2 separate regions of the Homo sapiens genome follow, and region 2 is linked to region 1. The links come from fine-mapping of genetic effects on gene expression. A gene starts in region 1. The other region holds a variant in brackets. All regions are shown on one strand. Distances are from middle to middle. Region 1 holds the start of ATP13A3 (ATPase 13A3). Region 2 has its middle 48 kb from the start of ATP13A3-DT.

Region 1 (5,374 bases):
GTGTGACACCTATTAAGATGACATATCTGATTTATCACCAGAATCTGAGGTTCAGAGATGTTATGTTGCCTAGTCACATACAACTAACCTTATAAACCCAGAGACAGAAACCTCTGTGTTAAGCACATTAACACAGAGCTAGGTTTCTGTCTGTCTTCAAAGTCGCTTATACTGTAAGCTCCTTAACTTCTTTAATTTTTTTTTTAACAAAGAAGAATATTGTTACCTGAAAGTGTTGAGGATTAGTTGAGACCATATGTAAAGAAAGGAGCACTTTTCCTGGCACATAATGGTTTCTTTCCTTCTTCCATTCCATATATTGAATCAAACTATGCTTGTATAACGTGGTGGTTTTGTAACTACTGTGAATATGAGGTTTTAGAATATGAATATGCTTTATTCCTAAGATAAATAGTAATCTTAGGACATAGGCACTATATCATATTACTATGGATATACAACCTACTCAATGGTCAAACTCAGTGAGAATAAGCAGTGATGGGGACGCCCTATGGAACTTTATCTTTATTCTGTCTTTTTTCTCAGTCTCAGTGATGTTGGAAATAAGAACTTTATACTTGTGAATGACAACAAAGTGGTTTATAATCTCGAAAATCTTGAAGACAGAAATAGGATTTCAAAATGAGCTCGATAATGTGGTTTATCCAAAGCGGATTCTGTGTGTTGTATATTTGGTGACCTAAACTAACTATGTAAGTATCAACCGCCAAGCTCGGTGGCTAGCGCCTGTAATACCAGCACTTTGGGAGGCCTAGGCAGGAAGATCACCTGAAGTCAGTAGTTCACGACCAGCCTGGCCAACGTGGTGAAACCCTGTCTCTACTAAAAATACAAAAAATTAGCTGGGCGTGGTGGCACACACCTGAAATCCCAGCTACTTAGGAGGCTGCGACAGGAGAATCGCTGAAACCCAGGAGGCAGAAGTTACAGTGAGCCGAGTTCACACCACTGCACTCCAGCCTGGGCAACAGAGCAAGATGCCATCTCAAAAAAAAAAAAAAAAATTTAAAGCAACCAAATAGTGTCACTTTTCCTACCCAATCCCCTGACCAAAGCCAGGCATTGTTGTTCTAACAAGGCTCAAAATCTCAATTATTTCACTCTCTGCCTGATCTAATGGTAGGATAATGCAAATCAAAGATACCAGCAAAAGTTATGTTCTACAACAATCATTAATAATAGGTTTACTACTTCGAACAACTTCCAAGCACTGATTTGCCTTAAAGGGGTTGCAAACCAGGATGAGATGCCCACACACATTGATTTTTGGCAACTGTAGTCTATTAAGCAAAGCAACAAACCTCTAGAGAAAATAATGTCACATATATTCCAGTGAAACAAAATTAATACATGTACCTTGGTAAAGAGGCTGAGCTCTAACCAAAGATAGAGCACTGTTCATTACGTACTCACCCTTCAAAGGAATCAAATCGAAACACTTTCATTTTAACAACGATACTTTTTAAAGGCTTTATTTTGCAATAATCTTTCAAGTCCCTGCATTTCTTAGATTCCTTAAATTCTAACTTCCTGCCTCATAGATCTAAAGTAGCCATGACATACCCAGGTATGTTCTACTCATTTAGTTAGAATCGTATAGAGGAACACAAGTCTGTTTCTAGGTGTACGACTCCACACCCATTCATTTTGCACTAATATAACCACTAAATATAGCTCTAAGACACTGATGATTAAAAGCGGCTAATTATGTGAGTGATTCATACCTCCTATGTCCAAACACCAAGATTCAGGGATGTCTGTCAGATCTATGGGAAGAGGAAACAATAAACACCTGTCACAAAGCTTCTTCCACACCGGGAAGCCCCCAGCTGAGTTCCTGCCAATCCCAACCCGATTCCCTCCCCCTTCATCCCTACCCCTCACCTCCCCAAAAAAGCCAGAGGTCATACTTCCACCAGAACCTGACTCTGTGAAGGGAATGGAGAGACAGAAAGGCCATAGCGAGAGTGGCCACGAGAGCACTGCTAGGGCAAAGGGCCCTGGGTTTTTCTAGTCCTCACTGCCACAGAGTCCGAGTGGGAGGCCTCAGGCAAGTCAGAAGTCACTTTTCCTCCACGGGACTCACTCCTTTTATCTGTGAAATGCGGAGATGGCAAGCAGCTCCATACTCCACGGCTGAGGACGAGCTAGGGTCCCGCACAGACTCATCGAGGGCCCTGCCAGCACCCCTACGCCTCTGCCCACAGGACCTCCACCTCCCACAGGACTTTCCGAAAGCTCTGACTACCAACCACCAAGCGCCCGGCCCCCACGCTCGCCCCCGGCAGGCGGCGCGTCCCCCCCAGGCCTTCGCACCCACCGCGTGGGCTCCTGCCCTGGCCTCACCTGCCCCCGACACTCCCCGTCCCCGCGATGCCCAACTCCGGCCCGAGAAGGCTGGCCGCGACCTCGCCCGGTACCCGCCGCCCCGACACCACCATTCGCCTCCTCGACCTCCCCCGGCGCCGCTGCCCACCCGCCCCTCGCCCCGCTCACCGGGGCCGCTCACTGGCCGCCGCCGCGCCGCCTCCTCCGCGGCCTCCCTCGCGGCCGGACCAGCCCCAGGGACCGCGGGGGACCCGGCCGCCGCTGTCGCCGCCGCCGCCTCGCCTCAGCCCAGCCCCATCGCCCTCGGCCGGCGCCGCGCGCTGCGGCTCAGGGTGAGGGAAGGAGGCGCCGCGGCGGGGCCGGGCCGGCCCTGGGACGTCCGCGCTCTCCTCCTCCTCCGCGCCCGCGGCGGCGGCGTGCAGCCGGCAGGGCGAGAACAAGGGAGGGCGGCGGGAGGTGGGCAGGGGAGGGGGGCGGTCTGCACTCCGAAACGGCCCCCCCGCCGCCAGCGACGTAGAGAACCCCCCTCCCCTCCGCGGCGGCGCCCGATCACGCTGCGGGGAGAGCCGGCAGGCAGGCGGGGGAGCGCGCGCGGGCTCAGGACTCCCGCGCCGGATGTGAGGTCACGTGGTGGCTTCATCCCCGCGCGGAGGGCGGAGGGGCGCGGGCGACGTCAGGAGGCGGGGAAGGGGCGGGGAGGGGCGGGGCGATTTATAGGCCCCGCCCACCCATCGCCTTTGCCACCCTCGAACGGGCAAAAGAAAGAAAGAGGCAGGTAAGGGGAGGCGAGGCCGTCCAAAAACGCTGGGTGTCAGCCCGGGGTGGCTAATGGAGGGCGGCTTTTCTGGTGGGATGAAATGGAACGGCAAATCCCACTTCATCCCCTTTGGGCTATGACAACATCATAGTCCAATCTCCCATTTTATGAACAGGGAAACTGAGGCTCAGTGACTAGACAGACGTTGCCCAGAGTCATGGTCATGGAGGAAGCTTGTGCTAGAATGGTGGAGAGGAAACCAGAGCCCAGCTCCTAATGCAAGGCTCTTTCATTCCTTTAGCCACCCTCGCCCCCGCCAAAACAAACAGACAAAAAACTGTCATTCTCATATGACCACGGACTCTGCGCCCCGGCCGCAGGCGGAGGACAGGGAGGAGCGCACACGAGAAAGCTCCCACGCGCCCGCGCCTCGCCTCCGACGGGAAGGCGCCTCTTCCGACCGTCCTGGATGCAAATTAAATACTTCCCTCCGCAGAAGACTTATCTCGGGGTAGGGCCGCAGCCGGATTTCCAAATCGCGGGTTTGATTTTCGCTGCGTCCTCTCCGCGACGCGCGCAGGGAGCGCGCCCGGCCACCTGCAGCCTCTGGCTGCGGCCATCTTTCCGCCTGGGGCCACCTGGCCTGCGCCCTTTGTGCCCGGCCCGCTCCGTGACTGTTCTTCTTGCCGCTACTTACAGAACTCAGCCGCCTTAGCGTCTTAGAGAAGAGGACGGCATGCATGCGGACCCCGTCCACCACACCTGGAGAGCAGGGAGCCCTTAGTCCCTGGACACTTACCAGGGCCGCCACCCCTGGTCCACGCACGTGATGACATCTCACCAGGGGCAGCACACCGCCCGAGTCCGCGACACTGATAACACCTCCTGCGGGCAGGAGGGCGCCACAGCCACCCCTGGTCCCCTAGATTGTGTGAGGCTAGCATTTCTGCCCGCCTCTTGGCGTGGACAGCACGCTGGACCGAGATGGAACCACAGCTTTCTCTTCCCAATCCCTGGCCTCACCGTTTTGTTTCATACCTCACCGTTTGTTTCAAACCTCGTGGTGTTGAAATGATTAAATGAGATTAAGGGGTGTGTGGTAGTGTTGGGCAAACCACAAGAAAACGGTCTGGGTGGGGTCTGGCCCTAAAATCTTCCTCCCCCACCTCCCAGGCTTCCTTGCCTTGCTGCTTCCTCTCAGCCTTTAAACAGGTTGGCCTCTCCAAGTCCTAAAAACAAAATTATCAAGCCAACCTCCTCCTGAAGTGCTCCCTCCAACTAGCTTCCAAGTGTTTCATGCGGACCTCAAACAATGGTCTTCCCTGGCTGCCTCTGCTTCCTCATTTCTCAACACTTGGCATTCTGGCTTCTCCTCCCCAACTCTAACCCTTCACCTTGCTCAGGCAAGAGCAACTCATGACTTTCATTTTGCCAAACCTTGCAGGCATTCCTCAGGCCTTATCTCTCTGGTTCTTTCTGCTACATTTGACACCTTGGGATGACTCTCACCTTCTGGAATCTCTCTACTACCTTGGTTTCAGAAGAGTGAACCCTCTGGATTATCACATGAAGGTAAGTAAAGCCTCTGCCTCCTTGGTAACATCTACTTGTGAATCTGCACCTTAAATTCAGGATTCCACTCTAAGCCAACAACTTTGCTCACTTCACTCATTCTTCTGGGATTGCCTGCATCCTCATGGATGCAGCTCCCAAATTAGCAATTTCCAACCCAGACCCCTTCCACAAAATTTAGAACCAAATATCCAATTGCCTGCCAGGCAGCTCTAGCTAGATATCACAGACACCCCAAACTGGACATTTCCAAAACTGAACTCATTCTCTGCTTTCATAGCTGCCCCTCCCTCAGCTGTTGGCACCACCATCTCCACAGTCATCAGAATTAGAAAGTTGGGAATGAGTGAGTCATTCTTAATTCAGCCCTCTGCCTTACCCAATCACCAAGTCCTATCTATTTCACCTCCTTAATAAGCCTCAAATTCCTATGGTGGGCTGGGCGCAGTGGCTCATGCCTGTAATCCCAGCACTTTGGGAGGCCGAGGCTGGTGGATCACACGAGGTCAGGAGTTCAAGACCAGCCTGACAACATGGTGAAACCTCATCTCTACTAAAAATACAAAATTAGCTGGACGTGGTGGCACATGCCTGTAATCCCAGCTACTTGGGAGGCTGAGGCAGGAGAATCGCTTGAACCTGGGAGATGGAGGTTGCAGTGGGCTGAGATTGCGCCATTGCACTCCACTCTGGCCA
Region 2 (5,374 bases), 48 kb after region 1:
TATTTCACTGTGGCTTTATTTTGTATTTCCCTAATGGCTAATGATGTTGAACTCTTTTCATGTGCTTATTTGCCATCTGTATAGCTTCTTCAGGAAATGTCTGTTCATGTCTTTTACCCGTTTTCTAATTGGATTTTTTTACAAGTTTGTAAGTGTGCAAATTTGGGGGTTTCCTGAAACCACCCTCAGGTTTGGTACTTTGCTAGAATGACTATCCAAGTGATCCTCCTGCCTCAGCCTCCCAAAGTGCTAGGATTACAAGCATGAGGTACCACACCCGCCAAATAATTCTTTTTATATTCTTGATACAAATACTTTGACAGATACATATTTTGCCGATATTTTACCCCAGACTTGCCTTTTCATTTTCTTAACAGTATTATTTGAAGAGCAAATTTTTAAAATTTTTATGAAGACCTAGTCATCATATTTTCCTTTTTGTGGTCTATTTAATATATTAATATATGCCCAACCCAGGGTCACAAAGACGTTCTTCTGTATTTTATTCTAGAAAAGTTCTAGTTCTAGTTCTTACATTCCGGTCTACTTTTCATTTCAAGTTAGTTTTTGCAGATACTATGAGGTAAGGGTTGAGGCTCATTTCTTTACATATGGATATCAATAATTACAGTATGACATGTGCAAAAGAGTCCATTTTCTCAGTGAATTGCCTTGGTATCTGTAAGGAGTTACCCAAACCACACAGTCAGACGGAACAATCCCTATAAGATTGCCCTGACTTCAGACACCAACTGCGAGTTTGCGGCTTCCTAAAACCACTCTCAGATTTGGTACTTTGCTAGAATGACTCACAGAACTCAGGAAAGTGCTGTGTGTACCACTGCAGCTTTATTATAGCAATGGGATATAAATTAGAACCAGACAAAGGAAGAGACACGTAGGGTGAAGTCTGGGAGGGTTGCAAACATGAAACTGCCACTATCTTCAGGAAAGTGTTTTCCTACCAGCACTGATGTGTGATAGTCTGTTCAGAGTATTCCCAACCAGGGAAACTTACCTGAGCTCTGGTGCCCAGAGATTTTATTGAGGTTTTCTTACAAACACGATTGGTTGAGCCCATGTGGTTGTACTCAATCTCCCGCCCCCTGTTCCCTAGAGGTTGAGCTGATACCATGTGTCCCCCAGCTCCAACCGTCTTATCAGATAGTTGGTCTTCCTGCCATGGCCACCCCCAACATGTTATAGCATAAAATATCAGGTGTAGTTCCAAGGGCCCATCAAATAACAAAGACACCCTTAACACTCAGGAAATTCCAAGAGTTTAGAGATTACCTCCCAGGAGATGGGGAAAAGGCCAGGCTTCTCTATAGGAGCCACATTTCTTGCTATATAAAATCTTTGTCAAAAGCAAATATAAAATGTGGTTCATATCCACAGGTTTAGGTCATACATGTGTATGTGTAGATCTATTTCTGGTCTCTCTTTTGTTCAATGATCTACTAGATGGAATTTTCTATGTAAAGAATTCTGTAATGATTTTTTAAAAATATGGAACCCTTGCAAATTTGCATGTCATCCTTGCGCAGGGACCATGCTAATTTTCTGTCTCATTCCAGTTTTTTTTTTTTTTTTTTTTTTTGAGACGGAGTCTCGCTTAGTTGCCCAGGCTGGAGTGCAGTGGCATGATCTTGGCTCACTGCAAGCTCCACCTCCTGGGTTCACACCATTCTCCTGCCTCAGCCTCCCAATTAGCTGGGACTACAGGTGCCCGCCACCACGCCGGGATAATTTTTTTTTTAATTTTTTTTTATTTTTAGTAGAGACAGGGTTTCACCATGTTAGCCAGGATGGTCTCAATCTCCTGACTTTGTGATCTGCCCTCCTCGGCCTCCCAGAGTGCTGGGATTACAGGCATGAGCCACCACTCCTGGCCTGTCTCATTCCAGTTTTATCAAATGTGCTATTGAAATGAGTGCTGTATAATTTTTAAACAATGTGCATACAATACTTCCATAGAAAGGAAAAAATGATAAGGATATAAGGAAAAATGATCTGCTTAAGCAGAAAAAAATAATTATACATAATAGCTGAAATACAACATTAGGGAAATTTCCCAGGAAATATAGCAAAAAGATAAAGGGATATAAAATAGTAGACAAAAGGTTAGGAAGTTAAGAGTACTAGTTCAGGGGATCTTATATCTGAATACCGGTGTTTCCAGAAAGAAAAAAGAGAAAAGAAGGGACAAAGCAATCAATGTCATAATTCAACAATAGAATGAACTGTGATATTTAAGAGCCAATAAGTAGCCAGCATCATTTTAGGGAGGAAGAGAAGATTTCATTGCCTCTAGAGATGAAAAAATTGGCTATATACAAAGTTTAGGAAGCAAAATGGATTTGGACTTCGCATCAGCAACACTAGAAGCCAAAGCACAATGAAGCAGTGCCTTTAAAATTCTGAGAAATGTAACTTGCAATCTGGAATTCTATACCCAGCCATACTATCAATTGAGTATGAGAGCAGAAAAAAATATGTTCAAGTATGTAAGATTTCAAAAACTTTTATCTATCATGCACTCCTTCTCTATAAGCTACCGGAGAAGATACTCCACGCAAAGACCAAGTAAATCCAGGAGGAGAATCTAAAATAGGAGAGAAGCAAGGAGATTCCCTGGGAGGATAGTAAGGGGAAATGCCATGATAATCGCTGTGTACAACATGTGGAGAACAACCATTTCCATGTGGAAAACTGTGACTCAAGAAACAGGTTGAGAACTGTCATCACCCAAAAATCCTCACTGATATCATACCTTGTTCAAACTTGAGGACGATTTATCCATATTTGTCACAGTTTCATTACATATTATGGAAATTCCCACTCACCTCTCTACACTCTGCTGGTAGAATCGGCTGAGCGTATTCATTTCATAAAACAGCCCGTTTCTGAAGTGTTGTGCTTTAGGCCTACTCTTGAGAGCTGAATGTAGGCTAATGAGCTTAAAAGCAGAAAATACAAAGCATCCTTCCCCCTCTGACCCTATTTCTACAGGGTCTTCAGTGCCTGGCCCATCCTGCAGATCTGCCAGATGCCCAGACACAGGTGAACCCTCATGGTTAGAGACTTATCCACCTGAAACTAATGAAACGGAAGCCCTTTATTCATATATGCCCTCCCCAAGGCCCTGTACCTAATTTAGTATTTGTAATTTTGAACTTATAATCTTACAAAAGGGTCCTCCAAATTATATAATCTTCAGACCCCACAAATCCTAGATCTGCGCCTGTGTACGATTGTTTTTTTCTTTTTTTTTGGCTTTCTCCCCTCCAATTAGGAAGATAGATGC[A/G]TGTTTTGTTCTGGTTTGTTTTCTTGTTTTGTTTCGTTTTTGAGACGGAGTTCCGCTCTTGTTGCTCAAGCTGGAGTGCAATGGCCAATCTCTGCTCACCCCAACCTCCGCCTCCTGGGTTCAAGCAATTCTCTTGCCTCAGCCTCCCGAGTAGCTGGGATTACAGACACACGCCACCACAGCTGGCTAATTTTTTGTATTTTTAGTAGAAACGGGGTTTCACCATGTTAGCCAGGCTGGTCTCAAACTCCTGACCTCAGGTGATCCATCTGCCTCGGCCTCTCAAAGGCTTACAGGCGTGAGCCACTGTGCCCAGCCTTGTTTTTGTTTTGAAATGGGGTCTCACTATGTTGCCCAGACTGGACCAGAACTCCTGGGTTCAAGTGATCCTCCCATTTCAGCCTCCTGAGTAGCTAGGACTACAGGCACATGCCGCCATGCCTTGCTCTTTGATCATGATTTTGTCCTCTGACTTCTCCAGAAGAGGCTTTTAAAGACTCAGGAAGGTTGAAATTACATTATAACCCAGCAACTCTATTCAGCTTGTTTTCCATGACCCAGCAACTCTATTCAGCTTATTTTCCCAGGAAATCTCATGTAATACTGGCAACAGTGCTCTTTCCTTACACAGCTAGCTTTGTGCTAGCCACTCAGTTATTCAAATCCAACCAGTAGATTGTTTAGGGATATGTCATATAGAGGGCAAAACTATAAAGCAAACAGTAACGACTGACATTAAAGGTAGTACCTGGGGAGGATGTGGTGCCCAGGGAAGCAGAGATTGCAGGGAGGCACACAGCTGAGCCTCAAGGTACTAGTGGGTGATAGGTGTTTGTCATTATTATTATTATTATTTTGAGACAGAGTCTCGCTCTGTTGGCCAGGCTGGAGTGCAGTGGCACGATCTCGGCTCACTGCAACCTCCATCTCCCAGGCTCAAGCAATTCTCCTACCTCAGCCTCCCGAGTAGCTGGGATTACAGGAGTGAGCCACCACACCCGGCTGATTTTTGTATTTTTAGTAGAGATGGGGTTTCACCATGTTGGCCAGGCTGGTCTCAAACTCCTGACCTCAGGTAATCTGCCTGCCTTGGCCTCCCAAAATCCTGGGATTACAGGCGTGAGCCACTGTGCCTGGCCTATTATTTTATTATTTTGAAAGAGGGTCTTGTTCTGTTGCCCAGGCTGGAGTGCAGTGGCGTGATCACAACTCACTGCTGCCTCTTGAGCTCTTCCCGCCTTAGCCTCCTGAGTAGCTGGGACTACAGGTGTGTGCCACTGCACTCTGCTAGTTTTATTTTATGGTTTTGTTTGTTAGTTTGGTTTTGTTGTTGTTGTTATTGTTGTTGTTGTTGTGTGTGTGTGTGTGTGTGTGTGTGTGTGTGTGTAGAGCTGGTGGTCTCATTAAGGTGCCCAGGCTGGTCTCAAACTCCTGATTTTAAGCCATCTTTCCACCTCAGCCTCCCAAAGTGCTGAGATGACAGGTGTGAGCCACTGCACCCGGCCTCGTTATTTAATCTTTAGATTGTACACATACTTTTCTCTAAATATGATACATTTTATAATTTTAAAGCCTGGAGAGGTGCCTGAAGGCTACTGTTTCCTCTCTTGGTTCAGGGCTGCAGCCAGAGAATATGTGCAGAGTCACTGTCAACAGCAAGTTAAGTATAAAAGGAAATAATGATTTTCTAACATTCTAATAAACCTGTGCTAGTTAGAGAGGATAGTGGTTACTGCAATAGAGTCCACTGTTTGCACTGGGAAGGGGTAAAGTCCAGCTGCCTTTTTCAGGCCCTCCTGGTAGAACAGCATTTTTCTGGCCCAGAGAGCATTCAGAATTTGGTCCTTACTTCCACATGTCCAGAAACTTGATTTTAGCCACTCCACTGGGACTTCTCATGCTTAGAGGGAATGCCTATGAATGAGCAGCCACTGTGAGCTCCTTGAGGGCTGAGATCATGCTTTATCCATCTCTAAATTCCCATTGCCTAGCAAAGAACCTACCTACAACAACAGAGTCCAGGGACCTTTCTGGCAACTTGCATACTCGTGTGTTCCAGACAGAACA

Evidence for each region. PIP is the estimated chance that this variant, and not a neighbour inherited with it, causes the effect.
Region 2: its variant is the best candidate, but not a certain one, in a credible set for the expression of ATP13A3 in whole blood (GTEx, PIP 0.61).

The regions. Positions count from the first base shown.
Region 1 is chr3:194,484,049-194,489,422 of GRCh38, forward strand. It overlaps ATP13A3 (ATPase 13A3), which reads right to left and starts at 2,954. Exons shown (of 34, transcript NM_001367549.1): 1 at 2,518-2,954; 2 at 1,746-1,787. ATP13A3-DT (ATP13A3 divergent transcript) reads left to right here and starts at 3,092. Exons shown (of 2, transcript NR_033929.1): 1 at 3,092-3,124; 2 at 3,408-4,497. RefSeq lists silencers at 2,194-2,253, 2,344-2,393, 2,424-3,083 and an enhancer at 3,754-3,973.
Region 2 is chr3:194,532,000-194,537,373 of GRCh38, forward strand. It overlaps the pseudogene RNU6-1101P. Among named protein-coding and RNA genes, the nearest start is that of ATP13A3-DT, 48 kb to the left of the region's middle. RefSeq lists enhancers at 5,001-5,295, 5,021-5,315 and a silencer at 5,001-5,295. The variant A/G (reference allele first, on the strand shown) is at 3,308.